Regions from separate parts of the Homo sapiens genome. Here region 1 is linked to region 2. The links come from fine-mapping of genetic effects on gene expression. A gene starts in region 2. The other region holds a variant in brackets. All regions are shown on one strand. Distances are from middle to middle.

Region 1 (5,360 bases), 58 kb after region 2:
CCTTTGTGAACTGTACCTGCCTCATAAGCTTATGCCAAGAACTGATTAAGATAATCCCTGTGGAGCTCAGCACAGGACCCGAGGCCTAGCGAGTGCCCAGAAGGTGGTGGCACTTACGCAGGAGCCACATGTCCTTGCCCTGAAACACACTTCAACAAACTGAGCTGACTCATGGAGACAGAAGTCATCCATGTGACGCTTACTCTCTGTTCTTAAGTGAGAATGCCCGGCTCGTTCCTTTTCAGGCTTTTATTGCCTACTGTGGGGGACTGCTGAGGCGATCTGGGGACTTCTGCCCCTTGAGCCTGGAATGGGGATTCGGTGAGGGGCAGAGAAAGCCCCCCTGCCCAGCTACACCTCACCTCTTTCTCTCCACCACCAGACAAACTCACCTGCCTTCAGCCCTCCATGCACTGCCCCCCACAAATTTCTGGGGGCTACTTGGCCCCTCCACAGTAGAGACCCACGTCTGCCCTTTTCCCAGCATGGTGGATTAAGTACCCGCTTTCAGGACACACAGTGCTGTTGGCCCCTTTCACTGAACAGACATCTGAGGCCAAGCCACTCATCCTGGCTTGCCTTCACCCGACATGTGGCCTGGGGCGAGTTCCTTCCCCTCCCTATGCCTCAGTTTCCCCACCTGTGCAGCAGAAACAGAGAGCCACACTTGCTTGCTCCCAGGGCCGTGGGAGGCCGTGATGAGGTCATGGATGTGAGAACATTTGTTGTACAGGCACAGGGTATAATTACATGGGGACTGCTCCTCAGAGGGGTTTGTCAGGGACAGCCTGAGCAGGGGACAGGAACTTGAAGGAAATTCGAGGGGAGGGAAGATGTTTCAGGTGAGGGGGTGGGAGATGAGGAGGGGGGGCCGCAGGGGCCACGTCAAGGGGCACAAGCCAGGGAGTGAGTGAGGACGGAGGACCTGTGTGAGGATCCCTTTCTTTCCTCCTCTTCCTTTCTCTCCCAGCCCCACCTGCCTCTCCGTCACCACCCCCCCAAAAGCCTCCCAGTCCCCAGACTGTACATGAAACAAAAATCCTGGTGTCCACCCTGAAAATAAATACTGTTGCTTAAAAAAAAAAAAGAAAGAAGAGAAAGAAAGAAAGAAAGACACAAACCTAAACCCCAAAGCCAAACAGCAAGTCTGTTATTTGGGAGTTTAATGAGCCCGTGTGAAGTCGCTGCCGGGCTGGAAACGATGAGGCTCCCTGCAGGAAGATTGGGGGCTTCGTTTTCCACTCTGAAGATGCCAAGAGGTCAGGTTCTGTGGGAACAGTTGTGGGGGGCGGGGCAAGGGACCCGTGACCTGGGGTCCCCTTCTCCTTCTTCTCCCAGCCCACCCTGCCCCCTGAGCTCCTGGCTGCAGCTGAGAGCAAGGACTCTGCCTCTCTGAACCACTTGTTTCCCCACTCCTTCTGGCAATAGAAATGCCTTCCAGTGGCAGCCACCCCCTGGGTGCTGGGGACTTCCCTGGGTGACTGCCTTTCCTCCTGTGATGGGTCTGTGGATGGATGTTAGTTGCATTTTATTTATTATTATTATTTTGAGACGGAGTCTCATTCTGTCTCTAAGGCTGGAGTGTAGTGGTGCGATCTTGGCTCACTGCAGCCTTCACCTCCCGGGTTCAAGCGATTGTCCTGCCTCAGCCTCCTGAGTAGCTGGGATTATAGGCGCACATCACCACGCCCGGCTAATTTTTTTTTTTTAAATTTTTAGTAGAGACGGGGTTTCGCCATGTTGGCCAGGCTGGTCTCAAACTCTGGACCTCAGGTGATCCGCCCGTTTTGGCCTCCCAAAGTGCTGGCATTATAGGCGTGAGCCATCGCGCCCGGCCTATTTTATTTTATTTTTGAGACAGGGTCTCACTCTGTTGCCCAGGCTGGAGTGCAGTGGCGTGATCATGGCTCACTTCAGTCTCAGCCTCCTGGGCTCAAGTGCTCCTCCTGGCTCAGTCCCTTGAATAGCTAGGAGCACAAGCCTGTACCACCATGCCCGGCTAAGTTTCGAAACAAATTTTATTTGTATAGACAGGGTCTTGCCATGTTGTCCAGGCTGGTCTCAAACTCCTGGCATCAAGTGATCCTCCCGCCTCAGCCTCCCAAAGTGCTGGGATTACAGGCATGAGCCACCGCGCCTGGCCAGTCGCATTTTATGGATAGGAAAACTGGGCTCACAGAGTTTAGGTGGCAGGCCCTTGGTCAGTAGTCGATAGAGTCAGGGTTCAAACCCAAGTCTGACTTCAAAGCTCACGGCCATGACCATGGCCTGGACCCAGGCTGGTCCTGGGGCACCTTTCCCACCTCTCCAGCCATCCTGTGTTCCTGGCCCCCTGTGCATTCCACAAAACCTAGGATCTAAGGTGGGAGACAGAGTGGAGGATAGAGCAAGGGACCTATGAGATGCAGGCCTGGAATGGTGGATCTGGGGCCAGTGTCAGCCAGGCTCTGCACTCCCAAGGTGTCAGCCAGGGGCAGTGGCCCGGGCTGGCACCCGCGGTGACAAGAGAACACTAGTGTGGTGGTCACCGCAGGCGGCTGCTGTTATGCTCTTGGCCCTACTTTAAAAATAGTCAGAACTTCAAACATGGACTCCCAAGGAAAACAAACAGTCCCGCGTCCGTCTGCCCGCACACACCAGCTGGTGGGTAAAATTAGCCTGGTGGTGACTACAGAGCCGTGAGGCCCGGCCCCGCTGTTTGCCCAGGCTGCGGTGGGCTGGCTCCCAGCTGTGGGCTGCCCCAAAGACCTCCCTGGCTGGAGCCTCTCCCTGCACGCATTCAGCCTTCCACCGTGGGAGAGGAGGCTCTGGGAGTCCCTGCCCTTAGCTGCACGAATACAGCAGGGCCCTAGTGCCACAGCCGGAAAAGCCCTGGGTTTGAATCCTGATGCTGCCACTTCCTGGCTCTGTGGCCTTCGGGGGAAAAAACCAATTTCTGTGCCCATTTTTTTAGTTGGAAAACAGGTGGCCAGGGTTTATTGCAGCCTTGGTATGAAGTTGAGTCAGAATGTATCTTAAATGCTTAGTGCCTGACACACAGGGAACGCTCTGTAAATGGTC[T/C]GATTCTTATTCGAGTGGGAGTTCTGTGGATTCCGGGAAGCCAAGTAAGGTAAGTTATCAGCTCCTCCAATATCCCTAGAAGCGCCAAACCACCGTCCCAATAGACTCGTGATTTCATCTCCCCACGCTGGACAAGTAAGGCCCAGAGATGACTGAGGCCTGGCTCACCAGGCTGGGAAAGTGTCCACACCATCTCCAGGGACTCCAGGAGTCCAGGTTCCAAGCCGAGGTCACTGGGGCTTCTGGGCATCTTGGAACCCTGCAGAAGTGATGGCTCCTGTCTCTTTTAGGTGATCATGGGGGGTGGCCGGAAATACATGTACCCCAAGAATAAAACTGATGTGGAGTATGAGAGTGACGAGAAAGCCAGGGGCACGAGGCTGGACGGCCTGGACCTCGTTGACACCTGGAAGAGCTTCAAACCGAGATACAAGGTAGCCTGTGCTGGGGCCATGTGGCTGCAGAGGTGGCCTGTGATGGGGAGAGGCTGTGTGACCCCTGCTCTGAAGTTCTGTTGTCCTCTGTAGAAAGGGCATCGGAAATCTTTCCTCCATGGGCTCAAATGGCCTAAGAGATATACAAGCAGTAGATAGTCAGTGACTAATCATTTCCTTCCCTTGGAGGGGATACCAGAGAGAGGCGGATGGTGAGGAGGAGGCTGGGCCAGGGAATAACCTGCGTGGACATTGAGTCACCCTGAGCACCTATTGTATGTAGGCACCTGGCGGGGCATGCGTGAGGCACAGAGGCTGAGTCAGATGGCCAAGGAAACATGGAATGCTGTGTGCCTGCATGGGGGACGCCTGGCTCTGCAGGCGCCCTGGGGGGACAGATGACAGGGAGGAGCCAAGAAGCTCTGGGCAAGTAGGAGGATGGAGGGAGGAGGCAGCGCTGGATGGATCAGGGGAGGACATGGTTGGCCCCAGTGTGCAAGCCATGGAGGGAGCGGAGAAGCCCTCCACAGTGAGTCCCCCTTGGCTGGGGGATGGAATAGATTGGGGAAGGGAGGCTGGAGGACGGAATAGATTGGGGAAGGGAGGCTGGAGGGACCTCTGGAAGGACCCCAAGCTCCAGCTCCTTGGAGTGGCCTCTGGCCCTTTAAATCTGAGCTGCTGGCCTGCGGGCCTGGGGCAGCTGGGGTCTGGAAATGACTGTGGTCAGGGCTGAAGACAGTGGGGAGTAGCCTGGCAGCCACTTTGATGTCACTCTGGGGTTGGGTTTCTGCAAGTTCCAGGACTGGCCCCTGGGGAGGCCTCGTGGGATGAGGCTGGGCCAAGAACGAGGTGGGGGTAGGGACTAGGGAAGGGCCCCCGTGGGGATGGTGGGGGTGTGGAACTGAGTGGCTTTGAACCCTTTCCATCCCTTCTGAGTCAGCTCAGGCTGGGCCAGAGCCCCCTCCAAGCTCAAGCCAGAGAGACACCAGCCTCAGTTTCTCTACGTGGCACATGGGGCCAGAGCTTCATCCTCCTTGCCCAGGCAGGGTGCTTACCCAGGAACTCGGTCTAGACCTCTAAGACGGGGAGAGAGCGTCTACACCATGGCCCCGAGCCTGGCCACATTGGGTATCAGGTCCCGTGTAGGCCCCACATCCCTAGAAAATCATGCCTTAAGAGTGGGTTTTAGAGTCAGTTTCACCTTTACCATTCAGTGGCTACGTGGTCTGTGTGCCTCGGTGCCCTCATCTGTAAAGAGGGAATAACAGGAACAACCCTGGAGGGAGAGAGCACAGGAGAGCCACCTCCAGGAAGCAGGGGCTGGGAGGGGGGGTGCGGAGCCCCACTTTCTGAGCCTCTCTGCCCTCCTCCCCACAACAGCCCCTGAGGCTTGCAAAGCCACTGATCCCACTGTCATTGCTAAGAGAAGGCAGGGGGTCTTCTAAGGGCACACAGCAGATCCTTGGTAGTGCTGGGACCCCTGGTCCAGGCCCACATGGTGCCCTCTCCAGGCCTGGCCTAGCTGGCTTCTTTCTGTGGACTTTATTCCCTGGGGAAACAGCCACGCCTTTATCTCCCCTCCCAGATGGGGTCCCCAAAGCAGAGCTGGGGCTTTGCTTCCTCCCTGGCCCTCCACGGCCTCCAGAAAACAGCCCACACCTGTCAGCACTCAAGGCCCCTGGAGACCTGTGCCTGGCTCTTCTTTGCCCCATGATCCCTCCTCCCTGGAATAGCCTTCCTGACCCTAGGCTGTTCAATTCCCACTTGTCCTCCAGGGACCCATTAGAACATCACCTCCACCAGGAAGCCCTCCCTGGTCCTGTGTCTGGGCTCACGGCCTCCCTGGGCTCTATCAGAATTCTCATC
Region 2 (5,335 bases):
GAGCCAGGAGGAGGGGCACCCGGGGAGCAGGGGAGGCAAGGGCTGCTGGATGCCCCATCTCAGTTGAATTCTCCTTGAGGGACCCAGCCCAGGAGCAGAGTAAGAGGGTTTGAGGGTGGAAGGTGGCAGGGCTGGCCAAGCAGTATAGTCCCTGCTGCTGATAACCAATCCCTGAAATCCCGAGGTGGAGGGACTTGAGGGCAAATCACAGACATGGGGGACCTAATGCTGGCCATGTGGCTCAACCAGAAGTGCCCGTCCCTCATAGCTTTGGGGAGATCAGAAGTCAGGGATAGGGTCGGGTGTGGTGGCTCATGCCTGTAATCCCATCACTTTGGGATAAGGAGGCAGGGGGATCACTTGAGCTTAGGAGTTCGAGACCAGCCTGAGCAACATAGCAAAACCCTGTTCTTTACAAAAAAATACAAAAATTAGCCGGGCGTGGTGGTGCACACCTGTAGTCCTGGCTGCTGGGGAGGCTGAGGTGGGAAGATCACTTGAGCCCGGGAGGTCGAGGCTGCAGTGAGCTGACATCATGCTACTGCATTCCAGCCTAGGCAATAGAGTGGGACCCTGTCTCAAAAAAAAAAAAAAAAAAAAGTCAGGGGTGCTGGCCCCATGATAGGTGCAATGGGTGCCTCCAATTCCCTCTGGCTCTGCCTCCCAGCCTCTGTCCAAGCAACAGGCAGATTTTCCATGCCTGGGGACTTGCCCCTGGCTCACTGATGATGATACCATCTTAAGTCTCCTGGAATCCTTAAACCCTTCCTTGGCATTTGTGAGCAAGTATTGAGCCCCTCCCATGTTTTAGGCCCAGTGCTGGGTGCTTTCACCTGCAATTTCTTACAGAGGATGGTATTTCCTAAACTCCATTCATTTGCTACCTCCATGATTTTTGCCATATCACCCAACCCATGAAATACATAAATAAATAGTATTTACTCAATATTTTGACTCACTTTTAAAAAACATAAACTTATCTGAAAAGGGAACCTATGTCACGCCTCTAAATAAACAGTATCAACCAAAAATACAAAAGAAACAAAAATAAATACAAAGACATTCTTGGTTTCTGGCACCAGGCCCCAGTTCTGGCTCCAACCTTACTGAGAAGTCACATGATCTCTCTGGGCCTCAGTTTTCTCCTCTGGAAAATGGAGCTTTTGGAAGTTAATGCATGCACAGTGCCTGGCCCTGAGACTGGCATGGAGTGAGTGGAAGAGAGGTTGCCTGACCTGGCTAAAATTGGTTCTCTGGGCAGACATTTTCCCAAGGGCCACTGAGAAGACCCTCCTGTTAGGAGTCAGTGAGCTCTGTCGCTGGAGGCATTCAAACAGAGCCTGCGGACTTCTCACTGCGAAGTTGCCCAGAGAATTCAGTGCTCAGAGGAAAGGGAGTGGTTATTCCATCAGAGCTGGTTCCCCAGGAGCGGGAGCAGGGCCTGTAGCACCCAGCCTCTGTCCCTGGCTCCCGTCTATCCGGGATTTTAGCGTTTCCTCTGTAGTTTTCAAGCACTGTCTCATATGACTCTCGCACCAGCGAGAGGCCAGGGGAGATGGTGTCTGCCTGTTAAAGAGGGGCAGGCTGGTCCACATAGGTCAAGTGACTTGGCCAAGGTCACCAGAGCAGAGTTTTGAACTTGAGCTGTCTGACTCAACTGCCTGGGAAGTGCCTGCCCCTCCTCTGGCATCCAGGGAGCATGTCCTGGGGCTCTGGCTGGGACATAGCCGGACACCTGCGGGCCCTTTACGTCTCTAAAGAGAGAAAGAGGGAAGGGCCCCTGTCTAGGGGGTGGTTTCCCTCCAGATGCCACCCCTCCGAGGTCCCCTTCTGCTTCTTCTTGCGGTAGCCAGGGAGGCAGCCCACGGGCAGGGAAGCGGGGGTGGGGGTGCAGAGTCAGAGGTGCACGTGGACAGAGACAGAGAGACAGGGACACGTGGGCAGAGACGGATAAAGACAGAGACCCAGAGAAAGCCAGATATGTTGACAGACACAGAGACAGACGCCAGAGAGGAAGGCAGACAAAGAGACGGGTGGAGACAAAGACTCCCACCAAGAGACGCAGAAGGAAGATGCCGACGGTAAAGACAAAACAGGAGACGCGCGCAAGGAGCAGGTCAGAGCCCAGGCTCGCTGAGAGAGGAAGGGCTGGGCTGGGGCAGCCCGGAGGCAGAGAGACCGAGAGTGCGGGGCGGGCGAGGGACGCCAGGGCCGCGTCACCCCAGCCCGTTCCTAGCTCCGCTCCCGGCAGGGGGCGCCCTGGCCTCGTGGCACGACCGGCCCGCGGGGCGCGGGGCTCGGGCCGGGGGCGGGGCCGGGGCCGGGCTGGGGAGGGGTTGGGGCCGGGGGCGGGGGAGGGGGCGGGCTGCCCGGGCCTCACTCGGGCCCCGCGGCCGCCTTTATAAGGCGGCGGGGGTGGTGGCCCGGGCCGCGTTGCGCTCCCGCCACTCCGCGCCCGCTATCCTGGCTCCGTGCTCCCACGCGCTTGTGCCTGGACGGACCCTCGCCAGTGCTCTGCGCAGGTAAGGATTCGACGCTGCCCCGCGCCCTGGTTCCCCAGGGCCCCAGCGGACGTGGTCCATCCCCTTCTGCATCCTCCGCTGGCCCCGTGGTTGAACTTTAATGGCAGGGCCGGGGTCTCCAGCGCCACGCCGCCCACAGCAGCCCATTCGGGACGCCCTGCAATTGGTCCTGCCCCTGTCCTCCCGCGCATCCCAAGCTCCCGGCGCGCGCTCTGGGCGGGACAGGAGATTGGACGTGGCGCCCGCGGAGCCGGCGAACTCAGGGGACCGCGCTCGGGACCGCCCTGCAGTCCCAGGGTCTCCTACCTCCCGAGCCGCTGCCTGGGACCCTGCGCTCTGTCTGGGCACCTGCCCTTGGTGCCCCGTGACTGAGCCCCTCCTGGTGCCTCCTTAGCCGTAGCTCTAGAGACCTGGGCTGCCAACCCCAAGGCCTCGTGGCCTGGCGCCCTCCCAGGCGTCCCACCTGACCCGGTGGGGTCTAAAGCAGTTTGGTTTGGGAGGAGGAGAGGGCAGGAGGCGCTTGGAATGGGGGGCGTGGCGGGAGGAGACAGAGGACACCCGCGTGGGTGTCAAAGTGTGGGCACCCACTGTGGGCACCGCAGCTGTGGGGCAAAGCTCTGGAGCCCGCGAAGCCGAAGGAGCCTGCCGCCCCCTTTAGGCTTTGCGAGGTGGGCCTCCCAGGGCTGCTTCCCTGCCCAGTCTTGGTAAGAAAGGGTTAAACGCAGGTCTCAGCAGAAAGGCAGGAGGCCGAGGAAAGCCTCCCCCACTCCCCATTGTGCCTTATGACTCTTTTTCAACACATAATGGGGTCGAAGGCGGGGCCTTTACAAAGGCCTCTGGGTGGAGGGTGAAATTCCTTGAGATCAAAAGAGGGGGCGATTCTTGGGCCAGGAAGGGCTTTGGGCCCTGGGAAAAAGTCAGACCGCTCAGGTGGGCCCAGCTGCCCAGGGAGGCAGGGGTTGGGTCCCAGCCTCAGTGTAGATACTGCAACTGTTTTTTGAAGGCCTACCGTGCGTAGAGGGACCTGCTCTGACATCTCATGTACATCATTTCATTTTACAAATGGGGAAACTGAGGCTTAGACAATTTAAGTAAGTGGTGGGACCAGGGTTTGAATCCAGACTCCAAACTCTGCAGCCCTAGCGTCCTGCTCCCACTGTGTTGCCTAAGAGATAGGGGGCTGAGCCTTGGTTTTGTCTTCCGGCTCCTCCTGGGCTCAGCCCGCTCTTCCTCCACTCTCCAGTCTTGCTCTTTCCAACTGTTTAGTCCTCCCCACCTGTGGGTGTCCCCACGCTGTCCTGCCCCAGCCATCCCACTCCCTGGCCCCATGCATCTTGTTCCTGTGTCACCTTTTTCTTTCTTTAACTGAATACCTGTGAATTCCCTCAGAAGAGGCCCCTGGACACAGCTTCTCAACATCCCAACTGGTGAAGACTAGGCTGAGTGATGATCCCGGTCCATGTGCCCATTTGTAAAAAGGGGTGTATTCCCCTTTCGGGACTATTGTGAGGAATAAAACTGAACTGAGGCCAGAACAAGATGCTATCTTCATTCAGCAAATACTTAAGCATCCGCCGTGTGCCAAGCTCTGTTCTAGGTGCCGGGAATGCCACAGTAAATCAGCCAAAAGCCCTCTTCTGGATTGGATGTTTGCATAACAAAATTCTTTCAGGCTTTGAAACTGTCAGAATTCACAGTGTAGACTTGAAATCAAGCTATTCATAAGGAAGGAGATTAAGACGCAATCACCTGTAAAATGGATTGGCCAACCTTTGGCCCTCACTTTAGCAAAGGCAGCCTTGCTGTGGGACCTGGGATCAGTTCTGTTCCCTCTCTGTGCCTCGGCCTCCTCCCATAAGCTGTGGAGATCAATAGTGCCTACCAGTGGTGAGGTCTAGATATGATGAATGCTTGCGAAGGGTTTAAGCTGGTACCTGTGCTTAAGAAAATCCTGGCTATCCTCAGCTCTCTTCTCAGCAGAAAATGCAATGCGGAGACTGGAAGTTGGGTTATGTGCCTACCCTGCCTCTGAACCTGTTACCCACTTCTGCCCAGGCCCTTCCCATCCTGTTGGGCTACACATGTGGGGTGGCATGGTGCCCTCTTTGCTCACACTCAGATGCCACCTTCTGTCGCCATCCTAAACACAGCCTGGGCTGGGAGCGCAGAGCTCCATGATGAGATCAGCCCTGGAGCCATCATCTCTGCAGCGCTTCCTGCCCTCTGCCTGTTCTTGTGCCTCACCGTGTCCTAGCTCAGGACCAAACTCAGCCCTGTTCTGTCCCATGACTTACATACCCAACATTCCCTGCAAGCTGGATATGATCTTGGAAAGGGGAAGTGAGTTGCCCAGAGGCACACAGATGCTACCTGAGGAGCTGGGGCTGGAGCCTGCGTATCTAGAATTCCAAATCTAGCAATCTCCATGCTGTACCCATCTCTGGGCATATGAGGCCTTTTAATCCAGGGAGTAGGATCCAGTAGCAGAGCCCGAGTTCTCACCTTGAAATCAGTCTGACTTGGCTTTTTAATACAAAACCCAGAGCTCTGAGAGAACATTGCTGGGAGAGTGAGCAAGCTGGGCTGAGAACCAGCACTCAGAAATCTCCATGTGGCCACAGGAATGCTGACTTGGCTTCCCAGCACCATGTCGTCGTCCTTGGCAGGCTGGAGCTGGGCTTTGTGGTATGTTAGATTTGTTTTTTTTCTTCTGGAGATGTCCTCACTTTCAGAGGGCAGTTAGGGGCAGTAGACTGAAGGTTCATTCCCAGCACTGCCATGCGACCCTGGACAAGTCACCTTCCCTTTCGAAG

Direction of the effects. Positions count from the first base shown, and alleles are read on the strand shown. Sizes are in standard deviations (SD) of each study's normalised expression.
As copies of T replace C in region 1, the expression in fibroblasts of the gene that starts at base 2,428 in region 2 goes up (small effect, 0.39 SD a copy in GTEx).

Evidence for each region. PIP is the estimated chance that this variant, and not a neighbour inherited with it, causes the effect. A credible set is the group of variants that fine-mapping cannot tell apart.
Region 1: its variant is the best candidate, but not a certain one, in a credible set for the expression of ALPL in fibroblasts (GTEx, PIP 0.72).

Annotation. Positions count from the first base shown.
Region 1 is chr1:21,564,754-21,570,113 of GRCh38, forward strand. ALPL (alkaline phosphatase, biomineralization associated) reads left to right here. Exons shown (of 12, transcript NM_000478.6): 7 at 3,351-3,494. Among named protein-coding and RNA genes, the nearest start is that of LINC02596, 19 kb to the right of the region's middle. RefSeq lists an enhancer at 3,764-4,348. The variant T/C (reference allele first, on the strand shown) is at 3,061.
Region 2 is chr1:21,506,996-21,512,330 of GRCh38, forward strand. It overlaps ALPL (alkaline phosphatase, biomineralization associated), which reads left to right and starts at 2,428. Exons shown (of 12, transcript NM_000478.6): 1 at 2,428-2,522. RefSeq lists a silencer at 2,236-2,335 and enhancers at 2,371-2,941, 2,942-3,511.